Linked DNA regions of Homo sapiens. The protein of the gene in region 2 interacts with the protein of the main gene of each other region in a biochemical or structural test. Each region holds a gene or a part of one and is shown on either strand. Other genes may lie near its edges.

What was found.
Region 1: of the proteins of AURKA (region 2) and NIN, one has a biochemical effect on the other in vitro, tested with the Homo sapiens proteins (2 studies listed by BioGRID).

What each region holds. Positions count from the first base shown.
Region 1 is NC_000014.9:50,827,888-50,836,418, reverse strand, and holds the start of NIN (ninein), read left to right. Parts: upstream 1-5,256; 5' UTR 5,257-5,413; intron 5,414-5,901; 5' UTR 5,902-5,955; intron 5,956-8,531. UniProt on the Homo sapiens protein: Centrosomal protein required in the positioning and anchorage of the microtubule minus-end in epithelial cells. May also act as a centrosome maturation factor.
Region 2 is NC_000020.11:56,368,890-56,375,750, forward strand, and holds the end of AURKA (aurora kinase A), read right to left. Parts: intron 4,668-6,861; coding exon 4,519-4,667; intron 1,771-4,518; coding exon 1,596-1,770; intron 1,452-1,595; coding exon 1,269-1,451; 3' UTR 501-1,268; downstream 1-500. UniProt on the Homo sapiens protein: Mitotic serine/threonine kinase that contributes to the regulation of cell cycle progression.

The DNA.
Region 1 (8,531 bases), on a different chromosome or scaffold from region 2:
ACATAAAATCTAAAAATTAATTTTACATGTTTCTTAAATGTGGCTGCTAGAAAATTTTGAACTACATGTGTGGCTCACATTATATTTCTACTGAACAGAAATGTTTTAAAATGTATGGTTCTGGGTTGCCATTTCTTTTGTGTGCACATCAAACTCTAGAGAATTCAAAGTAGTCTTGCTTGGGGAAAAATGTTTAATTTTCCATTCAAAACTATTCTAACAAAAAAGTAAAGATTTCATGTCATATTTGTTAAGTGTTTAAGAGCGTATGAGGGAGGGGCCAGGCGTGGTGGTTCACTCCTGTAATCCCAGCACTTTGGGAGGCCGACATGGGCTGATCAGCTGAGGTCAGGAGTTCAAGACCAACCTAGCCAACATGGCGAAACCCCATCTCTACTAAAAATACAAAAATTAGCTGTGTGTGGTGGCGTGTGCTTGTAATCCCAGCTACTTGGTAGGCTGAGGCAGGAGAATTGCTCGAACCTGGGAGGCAGAGGTTGCAGTGGAGGAGCTGAGATTATGCCACCACTGCTCTCCCGCCTGGGTGACAGAGTAAGACTCCACCCCCAAAAATGAAAAAAATAAATAAAAATAAAATTTAAAAGAAGAGTGAATGAGGGTGCAAACGCCAATGTTTCTTAAAGTAACATTTCATTTCCTCCCCCCTTCAAATGAAGCTACAGTGGCAGTCCTTTGGCACTTGCAGTCTTTAAAACAGTAGACCATTGCCAGCATCCAGCCACATGAAAAGGGATAATTCCAAAAGTAAAGATCAACCCCCCACCCACCCATCCCATGTATACATATGCAACATCTCTTCTCCACGTGAATGCCAAGTATTTGGAAAGTACCTAAGTGCTCAGCCCATGGGATCCAAAAGACACATGTGCAATAACCACTTCCTGCTATGCTTCAGTTGCTGCGCCAAACAATGAACAGAGAGACAAGGCATTCAATACACATGAGGACTGATGATCTGGGCTGAAAGAGCAGCAGAGGGAAGATTAGAAGGTCCACATGAGCAGAGTGGAGGGAGGGTAGGTTTCCTGCAGACACTGAGGATACATACCTTTGCATTGATCAGGAAGGACCTTGAATGTCAGGAAAAAGATCTAGGACCTGAAGTGAAAAGCAATGGTCAGAATGATCAAATGGAAGCCACGTTTTAGGGAAATCATTGCTCTCTTCTTCCCATGCTGTAGCGTGTGTATGTCCCCCAACTGGAGAATGTAATTAGAGTCCAATGCCACCTAACATCACTCCTTTACTGTCTCATGAGTGCATATTTTTACCTTCCCAAAAGAGAATGATGCATTCCTCAAGGGTAAGAACCAAGGTTGATTGTTACTTCATTTTGTTTTGTTTGAGACAGGTTCTCACTCTGTCACCAGGCTAAAGTGCAGTGGTGTAATCGTTGTTCACTGCAGCCTTGACCTCCTGGGCTCAATCGATGCTCCTATGTCAGTCTCCTGAGAAGTTGGGACCAGAGGCACGTGCTACCCAGCCTGGCTAATAAAAAAAGAGGAGTAGAGAAGGGGGGTCTCACTGTGTTGCCCAGGCTGGTCTTGAACTCCTGAGCTCAAGCCATCCACCCACCTTAGCCCCCAGAAATGTTGGGATTACAGGTGTGAGCCACCATGCCCAGCCTGATGTTTATTTTGAACATTGTGTGACTTTCAGGACAGTATTAGGCACAGGGTAGGCAATCAATGCTTACTTTAAAAAAATAAATTGTATGGAATCCTGGTTTCCTCTTCTTTCATTTTCTTCATAAGGAAAATGAATAGAGAATCCTAATTTCTAATAGGTGTCCCCCAGGGGCAAAAGTGTAAATCAGTTTGCCTTCTGTCACCTTCCCTTCCCTTTCCTATACTTTTCCTCTTTCTTCCTGGGTTCTTAACCACCAACATTTTGCTGCTGGAACTCTTAAGTCCCTGACTTGTATGTCTGGAACTCAAATTTCTCCCTTTTTCCTTTCCTCATTCATTTTCCTTAGGGCCTTGGGGAGATCATTGATGTCCCTTTCTTTCACCGAGTGAGTTCCTGGGCCAAACTATAACTGATCATCTACTTTAACAATCTGGCTGTCTTTGACACAGCTCTGCAACTTGCCTGAAAACTGTCCTGCTGAGTTCAAATGGTCACAGAAATAAGAAAGATATCGATTAAAGAAGTTTAGAAGGAGCCAGGAGTTGCTACATGAGTGACAGGCTGTTTGACTATTCTGTGAATAAAAAATAGTTTATACCCAACTGTGAGTTGGGAGAGGGTAGACTATGTTTGGTTAGAGCCTTTTTTTGGCTAAGAAAAAAAAAAATAACTTTTCAGGTTCCAGGAAATTTACAAAGCCTGACTTTTTCTCTCTCTTTTTCTCTCTCTCTCTCATTTGTCGTCTTGACTCTAAACTGATAATTTCAAAATTACTTCAAGAAGAAACAAAGAGTAGGCCAGGCGTGGTGGCTCACGCCTGTAATCCCAGCACTTTGGGAGGCCGAGGCAGGATCACTTGAGGTCAGGAATTCAAGACCAGCTTGACCAACATGGTGAAACCTTGTCTCTACTAAAAATTCAAAAATTAGCCAGATGTGGTTGTGCACATCTGTAATCCCAGCTACTTGGGAGGATGAGTCAGAAGAATCGCTTGAACGCAGGAGGCCAGGAGGTGGAGGTTTCAGTGAGACAAGATTGCACCACTGCACTCCAGCCTGGGCGACACAGTAAGACTCCATCTCAAAAAATAAATAAATAAATAAATAAAAAGAAAGAAAAGAAACAAAGAGTAACTTTCTCTTCCCTGGATTATTCTTTAGTTAACGTTTTAGAGCTTTAACCATCTGAGAAAGCCAGTTCCGTACTGTGAAATATGGCAGAAAACCCTTCAAAAACTTCACGTACAAATACTTCAAGGATCCTAGGTCCTTGAACAAGGTTCTTTGTAAAGTGAGAGTAAAAATCAGAGTCAGATAAGCTGCAACAGATAAGAGTGAAGTTTTGTTTGTAAAGGGTGATAACTCTGAATAAATATTTACATTTCTTCTTTTCTCTCTTATATTGGTTATAATGTAGAACTGGAGCCTGGTTGCTACTTCTGCTGTTATTTTGTGTTTAACAGAGAAAAGATCAAGTAATGGGCTCTAAAGGAAGTCTCTGCTTTTTTTTCCCATGACTCCAGTTTGGACTAAGACTAACCATGTGCTCAGTGCAAACCAAACTGCAGGCCCATTGTGTTAAATAAATCATCTTTCTTGGTAGAGTTGCTCTTGCCAACCCACACCACGCGGTAACCATGCTCCATGCTTTCCCTCCTTTGTAGCAAGGCTGGAGGTGATCCCAGTTCCCAGTCCCAGGGCTAACTCCACCCCACTTACTCCTCTCAAGAAAGCGCATCTTGTGTTTTTCAAATTACACAACCCCCAGCAATTCTGATCTTCCTGCACAGGGAGTGAATGCCACTTCCAATATCCCCTGACCCCCAGGAATCACTGTTTTAAACTAATGATCAATATCATCCTTAAGGATTCTTGCAGGTTAAAAAGCGATGCTTGGAGAGGTAACCAGTAGGATGAGGCTTCCATGGCAGAGATTAGGTGAAACAAGAAAGACACCTCTTCATTCTTACCTTCCAAGACTGTTGGCTGTTTTAGTGCCCAGTGAGCATTATTGTCTGTCTTACAAGATGACCTCTATGTAAGTATTCTGGTAACAGGTTAGCTATCCTCTTAATGAACTGCGTGTGTGTGTGTGTGTGTTGTATCATATTACTGGATGACTGAACAACCATGCATACAGTGTATGAGTGTGTGTTTGTGTGTGTATGTGTACTTATTCAAGACTGTTTAAAAAGGAGAGAGGAGCATAAATCTCTCTTATTCTGCAGGCACGCTTATATACCGTGTTGAAAGAAGAGAGCCTGGGCTTTTGAATAAGACTGAGATGTTTAAAATTTTTAAAAAAATTTTTTGAGGTAACTGTAAATTCGCTTGAAGTTGTAAGGAATAATAGAGAGATTCCCTATAGACGCTTCACTTAATTTTTCTCAATGGTAACATTTTGCATAACTGTAGAACAATATTACAATCAGTAAATGGACATTAGTGTAGTCCAAATGTCTTATTCAAATTTCATGAGTTTCACGTGCTCTCATTTGTGAGTGTATATTCAGTTCTATGCAATTTTGCCACATATGTGATCTGCTTTTGAATCTCAGTTCTGTGGAGTTCCTGCTGTGTGATCCTGAGGAAGCTCTTTGACTTCTGGGAGATCCATTTTCCTCATCTGCAAAATAATGTCTGCCTCCTAAGAGTGATGTGAGAATTAGATAAGATAATTTCTGTCGAGTTTCTAGCGCACTGGATTCTCAAGGAATGCTGGTTTCCTCTTGTCTGTTGCTTGCTTTCTCGGTAGAAAAGGAATCACCAGTTTCCTGCTAAAATAACCAGACTTGTGGGTTGTAATCCATCAGGCGGATCCTTCAAGGGCAACACATTTAACCCTGCAGCTCAAAAAGAACCATGGCCTGGACTTGGGATCCTATTTGACTGCAATGAGATCAGAAGTGTAGGGATGGGGGAGTGAGAACGCAGACTCTGGGGTAGTAGGTAGGAGGCGATTAATATCGAGCAACTGTTGGGCTGGGAACCACCAACTCCAAGGAGTTTTCGTCCTGTGTGGCTTGCGACCGAGGGTTAGCTTCACCCGGAGAAGGCTGCACAGGGGCGGGAGCCTGTGAGGACGTGGTGGGCAGGTGCGGAAGCCAGTGTAGACCCGGCAGGAGGGTCGCGCTCGCTCTACAGGGTTCCGAGTCACTTCTACAGCCCTTCTGCCTCCTGAACACCCTTTCCAATGTTGATGGCCAATCGACACCCGAGGGCTGGGAAATCACCCCCTTAAAGTCCCGCTTGCTGAAGGCGGGGGCCCTTCCTCTGCGCGAAGACGCTGCGGCCCGAGTGTCCGCGGTGCGGGTGAGTGTAGGCGTGTTGGGAAAGAAAGGGAGGCGGACAGGCAAGGGGCGAGGGTGGCAGCGCCAGCCCCAGCTCGGTGGCGACCTCGGGGCGCCAGCCTCCTACACCCGCACCCGGAGCCCCGGCGTTTCTAACTTCAGATCTCGGAGGCGGGCGCTCGGAGCGGGAGGGCGCGTCTGCGAGGGCTCAGGCGGCGCCGCCCGCTCCTCCCTCCGCTGCCTGAGCCGCGCGGGCCGCAGAGGAGGAGCCGCGCCGGGGCCGGCGTCGCCCTGACTCCTCCTCCCCGCGCGGGCCCGGCCCTTCCTCCCCGGCGTCCAGAGCTCCGGGTGGCCGCGGCCGAGCCGGGAGCCGAGCGCGCTGGGCGCGGCCGTCCCGCTGCCGCCGCCAAGCCCGGAGTGCGCCAGCGGCCATGGTTCCCGCGGCGGCGCCGGGCGCCTGAGCCCCGGGACGCAGTAAGTGGCGCAACCCCGGGGACCCGGACCCACGGCCTGGGGGTGCACGGAGGCCTCGCGCTGCCCCCGCGCCGTCGGCGAGGCCCTGAGAGCCCGGAGCGAACTGGGCACCGGATCACTCGGGGGCTTCCCATTTGGGGTCCGGGGCCAGCGGGGCGCAATCCCTGCGGGCCGGGAGGAAGCAGCGGCCGGGCGGGAGGACGAGGCGGGGACGGGGCTGCTTCGGAGGCGGGAGGAGGGGCCGGTCCCGGAGGCGCGGGCTGCGCGGGCGGGGGCGGGCCGGCGGGGGCGGGGAGGATGCGCGCTGCAGCCCGCGGCCCCCGAGAGCCGCGCTTTTGTAAGAGCTGGCCCCTTACATATGGAAATGACGCTCACGCGGGTCCCCATTCGCGTCCTTTTGAAGGACGCCCGCCCGGAACCGCTGCGCCGGCTGCGAAGTATTGTCCCGTTTCTCCAGCCCTAACAAAGCGTCCTCCTTCGCTTTGCAGAGCGCTGGAGGCGGGCTGCCGGCTGTGCGGGCGCTCCGGAGAGACCGACAGAAGGTAGGCGAGGGCGGCGGGGCCGGGGGAGCGCGCTGCCTGCCCACACAATGGGCTGTCTGAGGTTTCTGGTAGTGGCGATGGGCAGGCGAGTTGAGGACGCATCGCAGGTGGCCAGGGACTTGGGAGGCGCGCTTGTCCTGCGGCCGCACCTCCGCTTCCCCGCGCGGCAGCACCGCTGGGTTTGGGCACTTCCAGTACCCCCGACGCCCCGGCCGCCTGCCCGGAGCTGAAAGCCGCTTCTGTGCTTTGACCGAGAGCAGGCTTGAGTCCCCGAGGGAGCAGAAGGGGTGGTGGTTCCGTTGGCATGTGCCGCCCGTACAGCCTTGTGATTGAGACGCTGCAGAGGAAACTGCATGGGGAAATCCGAGGTGTTAGCCTGGGCTGTCTGAGTAGCGGAGAGCTGCTTGGAGCCCGGAAAGTGGAGATTTTTGGAGGTGTGCGGGGTCGATGCGCGTAAACAGTTTCCCAGTATAATGCCCAGGAGAAGGGGAAAGAACAAAATGACATTTGGTTATTGCCTAAAAGGTGTGGCATGGAGGTATGGAGTGTCGGGGAAGGAAGCTTCCAGCGGCTAGGCTTCTGTAGCTACCGAAGCGGCCCCTGACAGAAGGACACTAGGTGATGGGAACAGTCACTGCTTCCAGCTCTCGCTGCGAAGTTAAAAGAGATAGAGACGGAAAGAGGCAATTTCCCTAACCCCAGCCCTGACAACCCGAGGTGAAGGCACCAACAAAATGGGAGCTGGAAAGACTGCCCTACCATATATCATGTTTCCAGACAACTTGGATATTATGAGATCTGCTTTCTGCTCCTAACTAGGACAGATCCTCTCCTGGTGTTGAGGACTTCTAAGATGGGCTTGCCATACAGCTCAACTCCTGAATTTATTACATCGAAACAGATTGCGTAGTTGTCTTTTGTGACTGACATGGTAGCTTTGTAGGATGAGAATCCTGATAAAGTCCATCCTGACACATGAGGGAAGCCCCTGGAACCACGACGTTTCTCAGTTAGGTCCCCGTAAACACCATAACATACACACATGTTTGCATGATTCCGGAGGCTTGATGATCTAACAAGGAAAATTCCTTTTTTCTGTCAGTTTAATTTTACCTTGAGTCTTCTCTCGTGGTGAGCATATTATATAGGTGGCTGACCTGGAATATTGGTGGCTCTTGCTCCGGAGTTGAAGGGAGCTGAGGATTTCCAGAGTGTGTATAGGAGGAACATTACAGGCTGGCTGAAAAACGAGTTTGTGTGTTGTGGTCTCTTCAGCTATTGTCAGTGTCCTTTGGGAGGTGATGTGAACTGCCCGGGAATTTGTTTGCAGATTTGTTTATTTTCCCTGTTCTCTGGTGATTCTTTAGAGGGAAGCATTCTGCAGAGTGGGGAAAAGGTAGGATGAATGTTCCACAGGGTTGGACATCGGCAAAGTTATTACCAATACAGGGAAAGGCTTCACAGGGGGCAATAGAGAGGAAGCCATCATACAGTCTGCATTAAAATGTCAAGGATCAGTCATTTTAATAGGCACTTGCTCAGAATGGCGTGGGGTTCTTTTTTCTTATTTCTTTTTCATTTTAGATGTGTAATGACCCTTAATATCAAAAGATGTTAACTGTCACAGAGGGGGAGAATAGGGCTCCAGTGAATTCTGAACAGCCAATCTTAATGTAATAGGCAGTATTCTTATCATGAGTCAAATGTTCAAATAAATTGTTTTAAATGTCACTGCAAATGACTTTCTAAACTAACATTTCAACTATCTTGATGCTTCCATTTTATGTTGATAATGAAAATGCATTTTATCAGTCTTACATTGATAAAGGGTGGGCAAGCTTAGCCAGAGCATTTTAGAAGGATTTAAACAGCGTGAAGCCTTTTTAGAAGGCTTATTTTTATAGATGCCAATTCATTTGTAAGCCAATAAATTATCTGGTTTGAATTCTAGCTATTGAACTTGCATCTGTTGGGCAGGGGCTTATGGAGAGACTTAGTGAAGCTTGCAAAAAGATTTTTATCCTATTTATGAATAAAATAGAATTTTGAAAAGATTATGAGATTCTGAAAGTGAGCATCCTTGTTTGAAATTAGGACACTTCTTTATTGCAATTTAAGTCAGCAATTAACCATTTATTCAAGCTTTTGGATGGAAAAATTACAAAGCATCTATCTATACCCTAATTCTCACTTTAAAAACAAAGTTGGGAAAATATTGTTCATAGACGTGAGAAGAGAAGATCACCTTCACTTACACCTCAGGGTACCATACTCATAGCCTCAGGCATCCTAAATTAATGTGAGTCAATATGGCTTAAGAAGTGGAAGTTGTTATAAGCTTTCTCCTTTTTTTTTTTTTTTGTAACAAACATGCAGCTCTGTTTTCTGCTTCTGTAATTTACTTAGTAGTTGATTACAGGTTACTGAATGCACATTGTGCCAGGCTAATGGCGTTTTTTTGTTGTTGTGTTTTTTGTTTTTTGTTTTTTTTTTCCTGTAGCTAACCTGAGTTAACTACTTGATTGGGTAATCTACCAGTTATTAGGTTGAACAAAAGCATGGGTTTATTACATCCT
Region 2 (6,861 bases):
GTCAGTCACGTGATAATAACTATAGCTTGGGAGGGTGGCACATGAACTATTTGGGAAGGTCAAAGTCAGTTCAGCTCAAGACTATGAGAACCAGAAGCCCCTTTGTCCCAAGGGGGCTGGCAGCTGCAGTTTTACTGAGTCATGTTTTTAAGTTTCTCTATATTGGCCACTTTGTTATGACATATCCTGACATACCTGCTGTCCAGTTTCTTGCACTGAGCATTGGCCATGCAAGCAGATTTCTCTACTAGCTCTAAGTTCAACACTTCTACTTTTCCTTCATCACAGTCACTTTCACCGTATCTTTAGTCGATGGACAGATGACAAAGATATGACAAATATATAAACAATATATATAATGAAGTATTAGGAGTACACCCAACAGGAGAGACCAGAAGAGGCAGGACTAGATGAGGGCGAGACCTGCTCCTCTCAGCCCCTGCTCATTTCCAGGCCAACAATGAACAGATGGTGGAAAGAATTACACAGCACTCCACACAGACATAGATACTTATTTATTTGCATATTTAAAGTTTACACACATGCTATGACTCCAATGTTTTAAAAAAATAAGCCCTTAACAGCTCTGAGACACATGGCCTCTTCTGTATCCCAAGCAAATCCCTAAATGGAGGTAGAGCACGTGTTCCTATTTTTCACACTCTCATATGGGAGATAAGTGGTTAAGGAGGACTAGAAACCCAATCAGGCCTACCGGGGTGCCGGACAGACACACAGCATTCCTAAAGGAATGCCACCAGAGAAAAAATACAAGTCTGTACATATATCTTTATTTTCATACTTAAAAAGAATCACATACTCATTCCAACAGCTTTACCAGGCTTCGCCAACCCAATAAGTTACACACTCACTCAGGTACTAGGAAGGTTATTGCACAGCTCCTTAACTGATCGGGGTCAGGGCAGAGTGGTCACTTTCCCCACAGCCAGGCTCTGGATTTGCCTCCTGTGAAGACACCATGCCTAGCACAGGCTGACGGGGCGGCTGCAGTCGAACCTTGCCTCCAGATTATGAACCAGTATAAGTAGCACAATTCTCGTGGCTACTTTCACTTCAGAGTGTCATGTTTATTGATGTGGAGCTTTCTGAATAGGGAGGTTAAGGCACACCTGCTGAGTAAAACAAATATTTCTTGTGTAGCGTTCTAGATTGAGGGCAGCAGTCAATGGTAAAATAAACTTCAGTAGCATGTTCCTGTCAGGTTATATGGCAGCCCTGGCTCAAGGATTTCTCCCCCTGCACGATTCCTAAGACTGTTTGCTAGCTGATTCTTTGTTTTGGCAATTTGATGGTTTTGATGAATTTGCTGTGATCCAGGGGTGTTCAAGTACTTCTCTGAGCATTGGCCTCTGGCTGGGATTATGCTTCAACAGTCTTGAAATGAGGTCCCTGGCTCCCTCTGTTACAAAGTCAGGGAATGTGAATTCAACCTGGAGTACAACAAATGATAAAATATCACAAAACACAGGTTAGAGAGATCAAATAGTATAGATGTTCGGATCTTGGCCTGCAGTTCAGGCTGATAAGGAAAGAATTCCAGCAGATGTGCTGGGTCCTTTTCAGTTGCGTCTTACCCGTGATATTCTTTTGTAGGTCTCTTGGTATGTGTTTGCCTCAAAAGGAGGCTTCCCAACTAAAAATTCATAGCAAAGAACTCCAAGGCTCCAGAGATCCACCTTCTCATCATGCATCCGACCTTCAATCATTTCAGGGGGCAGGTAGTCCAGGGTGCCACAGAGAGTGGTCCTCCTGAAAACGGAGGGAGGCTCAGGTTGATGTGCTTCTCGTTTTATGATCACAACAGCTGCTAACAATCATTAAAGAGTCCACTAACACTGAGGTCTTCCCCTGGGCCAGATCCTGTGCCCTAGGAAGTAGCTACTATTATAAATTCCCATAGGAAACAGATGAAGCGAGGTGTGTAAGGTCACACAGCTAGCCATCAGGCTTAACCCCAAATCTGTCCAACTCCAGAACCTCCCTGAATAATCTAGAATGTAAGAAACTGAATGTATCACTACCATATAAAAGCTGCCATGCAAAGTTCTCTGTAAATACGATTTGGATTCTACATCTGCATGTGGATATTACAGATATGCTAAGAATCTTAAAAGCCTGGTCGCAATGACAATACACTAGAAACTGTCCCACTGTAACAGCACTGGGGTGGAGATGTAGACACATGCTGCCTTGTGATAGATACTTGGTACGAGTGATGCTGAAATTTTGAGGGTGGCCTATGAAGTACTCTTGCCAAAAATATTTAACCTGGCTGGGTGCAGTGGCTCATGCCTGTAATGCCAGCACTTTGGGAGGCCGAGGGAGGCGGATCACGAGGTCAGGAGATCGAGACCATCCTGGCTAACATGGTGAAACGCCGTATCTACTAAAAATACAAAAAATTAGCCGGGTGTGGTGGTGTGCGCCTGTAGTCCTAGCTACTCAGGAGGCTGAGGCAGAAGAATGGCGTGAACCCGGGAGGCGAGCTTGTAGTGAGCCAAGATCGCACCACTGCACTCCAGCCTGGGTGACAGAGCGAGACTCTGTCTCAAAAAAAAAAAAAAATTTTCTTAACCTGAATCTCTTCAGGACCTGAGACCTACATTCCAGTTTTCAGCAAATACGGGGAATAAAGGTCCAAGTTAAGTGGCAACACAATCAGAAAAGTCCTCTTTAAAGTGGGAGACTGGTCTGGCTTTAGACCACAGAGACAATCCAACCACAGAGACAGTCCAACCACAGAGACAGTCCAACCACAGAGACAATCCAACCACATAGACAGTCCAATACAAAGCATGGGCTTTGGTTGAGTTCTGATTTTACAAACCAGCTATAAGATGTCATGGACAATAGGAGAAATCTGAATGTGGACTAAATATTAGATACTGACAATGCTGTTAATTTTCTTAGGAGTGATCATGGTTCTAGTTATATAGGAGAATATCCTTATTTAGGAAATGCATTCTATTATAGTGCTTAAGGTTGAAGCATCATGATGTTTGCAACGTATTTTCAAGTGTTCACTAAAAAAGCAGATGCAGCCCTTCTGACTAAATGGGAAAAACTGCTGAACGTAGGCACTGTATAGACAGGTATGCCATCAACTACCAATTCCGCATTTTTATCGGTTTAGGTTTTTTTAACGAAGGTTGGAAAAAAGCTGGGAACAGCAGACAGCAAGCCAGAACAGTCTGTGTGGGTTCGTGTTGCTTTGTTATCAGCTGCTCTTCACCATGGAGGCTTACGTGGTCACAGCCCTGGTGCTGTGTTCAGCCAGGCCTGGCACCCACTGAGCACACAAACAGTCACTCACCACTGAATTGTGACGTAGGATTAAGAAGCTACCACTCTGGTCATCTAACCCCTCCATCAGCACCGACGGACTGAATCGGGGGTTCTCAAACTGAGGCAATAACCAGGAAATGATGATGATTAACATCTGGGATTTGGAGTGAAGTGACTATCGGTTATGTAAGTAATCTTTTCAAAAAGCAAGAAGCCATCTTTTCTATCACAATTCAACCGGTTAAGATACAGTTTAACTCTGCGATTCCATGAAGCCTGTAAGTCTTTATTCTGGTTTGTCTCACCAGATAACAGCTCCCACTAATGACAACCAGTTTAAAAAAAAAAAAAAAAAAAAAGACTGCAATAGCAGATTCAGTGCATTGCTGGAACAATTAGAAGTGCTCTGTAACAAAAGCAAAGGTTTTCTCCCTCATATTCTATTTTAGGCTATACTTTTTTTTTAACTAGCTTGATTTTTAAGTCATTTGGCTATAATTTGAGTCCTCCTCCAAAGTTGACAAAACTTCATCGGTAGATATATGTTTTAAAATGCCCCACTTCATGTGAAGTTTCAAAGCTTATTTAAACTCAAATTTAAAACAGTAAAGATATTGTAGTTCACTTGGAAAGCTAAGATTTGAATTGTTTTGAGACTGACATCTCTGCTTCAGCTGTGACAGGGGATAAGAAAGGACTATCCCTACTATTGACAGAGGCAGACTGAAGAGAATCTCTCACCACTGCCCTCAAAGCACCACCAAACTAATTTAGTGTTTCAAGTTCCCTGATATGGCCTGCACTCTGAGCTCTAGATCTTTGTCAGTGCTGTCCTCTGAACCATCTCCCCATCTCCTCATCCAGGAAGCAGCAGAGGTGAAGAGTTCCTCCCACTCAACATGTGGGCACTTCACCTCTGTCATATACGTGTCCTATCTGTTGACTCATTCATCCCTTCATTAGCCTCTAAGGACATTAAGCATCTTCAACCCTAGGCCTAGAACACTGCTAATAGCCCCAAATCTCCACAGAATAACACTTTCTTGCAAACCCTAGTTTATTATTAAGCCTAAATTACTCCAAAGTACTTCTGGGTTAGCCACCTACCCCTCTTACAGCACAAAATCTACACTGAAATATTTTACATTTAGCTCACGGTTAGCTCCCAGGGCTTTGGTAAACCAAACAACTTCCACCTCTAAAGTTACATACCTGGAAGATGGAGCATGTACTGACCACCCAAAATCTGCAATTTTAAGCTCTCCAGCTGATCCAAGAAGTAAGTTCTCTGGCTTAATGTCTCTATGAATAACTCTCTTCGAATGACAGTAAGACAGGGCATTTGCCAATTCTGTTATATACTGTTAAAACAATATTGAAAGCCTATGTTTTAGATTTTATATAACACAAGTTAATATTAGACATCTCTTCCGAAAGGAACACAACATAGATTTAACATGGTTTGCAGGTTTTGGCCAGGCACAGTGGCTCACACCTATAATCCCAACACTTTGGGGGACTGAGGTGGGAGGATCACTTGAGCCCAGGGGTTCAAGACCAGCCTGGGAAACATAGCAAGACTCCATCTCTACAAAAATTTAAAAATTAGCTGAGCGTGATGGTGCATGCCTGTAGTCCCAGCTACTTGGGAGGCTGAGGCAGGAGGATTGCTTGAGACCAGGAGGTCAAAGCTGCAGTGAGCCATGATCACACTTCAGCCTGGGTGACAGAAGGAGACCCTGTCTCAAAAAGGAAAAGACAAAACAAAAAATACATTTTGCAGGTTTTAAAGCAAGGATTGTAGAAATTATATAGGAGTCTACACACACACACACACACACACACACACACACACATCAACTGAACCAATTTATAGTGGTTAGCATGAAGTGAAATTACCCAATGCTTAGTCATCTCTGCTAATACAGCTGGTGTGATGTTGAAAGTCAGAAAAGACATTCAGCCAGTTAGAGCTAGCTCTTAGGCTGGTGCCATGTCAATGCAAAACACAGTTACTTTTGCACCAACCTAAAGTTACAACACCATACGGCAACAAATGGCCCTGCAGCCAGGAAGTAAGACAGTGCTGAAGAACTGGTACAAATTAAGGATTCAGATGTGTAAATACTGCCTTTTTCTTTTTTAGAAAAAAAAAATGAACTTTGCAAGTATAGTCAATTCCCTTTTTTAAAACCAAGGTCATTCTGTGACAGAAGAATTTGTTTAAAGCTAAAAATTTACTTCAAGAATATCAGGAGAAAAAATTATCCTGAACAATAAACAGAAACTAAAAAGCAGTTGCACTGACATATTAAATAGCATGTTAAATTTTGGGTTACACTAAGTCAGCATAGAAGTACATAAGAAATCAGTCCTTTTGTTAATTTTATTTCCTTAAGTTACTATCTTTTTTTTTTTTAATAGAGATGGGGGTCTCACTATGTTGACCAGGCTGGTCTCAAACTCCTGGCCTCAAGTGATCCTCCCATCTCAGCCTCACAACGTGCTAGGATTACAGACATGAGCCACTGCACCCGACCGAATTACCATCTTGTAAGAAAAGTTTTCCTGGCCAGGTGCAGTGGTTCATACCTGTAATCCCAGCACTTTGGGAGGCCAAGACAGGTGGATCACCTGAAGTCAGGAGTTCGAGACCGGCCTGACCAACATGGTGAAACCCTGTCTTTACTAAAAATACAAAAATTAGCCAAGTGTAGTGGTGCATGCCTATAATCGCAGCTACTCGGGAGGCTGAGGCAGGAGAATTGGTTGAACCCAGGAGGTAGAGGTTGCAGTGAGCCGAGATCATGCCATTGCACTCCAGCCTGGGCAACAAGAGTAAAATTCCGTCTCAAAAAAAAGCAAGAAAAAGAAAAGTTTTACAGTCCCTATCGCTAAGATTTAGCAAACAAGTCCAGTATGTATGTATTTACTTATTTATTTTTAAGAGACAGGGTCTCACTCTGTCACCCAGCCTGGATTGCTATGGCATGATCATACCTCACTGCAGCCTTGAACTCCTGGCCGTAAGCAATCCTCCCACCTCAGCCTCCTTCCGAGTAGCTGGGACTACAGGTGTGTGCCACCATGCCCAGCTAATTTTTAATCTTTCTTTTTTTTTTTTTTTTTTTTGTAGAGACAGTCTCCCCATGTTGCCTACGCTGGTCGCTAATTCCTGACCTCAAGTGATCCTCCCACCTTGGCCTCTCCAAGTGCTGAGATTACAAGCGTGAGCTACCATGCCTGGCCCAGAATTTATTTTAACATACAGATAACTGTTTGAATATTGAAAAAATATATTTAGCTCTGCCTAAAGTTTGAGAAGAGTTTGCTTTCTACAGCAATTTCTAGACAGGATTGAACATTATTTTACATCAAAAAGGTTTACTAAACAGATGAGTAAAAACCAAATGTCACTGTCAGAATAAACACTTTTCATTCTTTCAGCCCAAAACCGGAGATCAAAATTCAGACCACAATAAACTGAAGGCAAATACAAAGAAAGCTGCTCTTCTGACCACCAACTTTGAGTTGCTGATGCTTTAATTGCACACA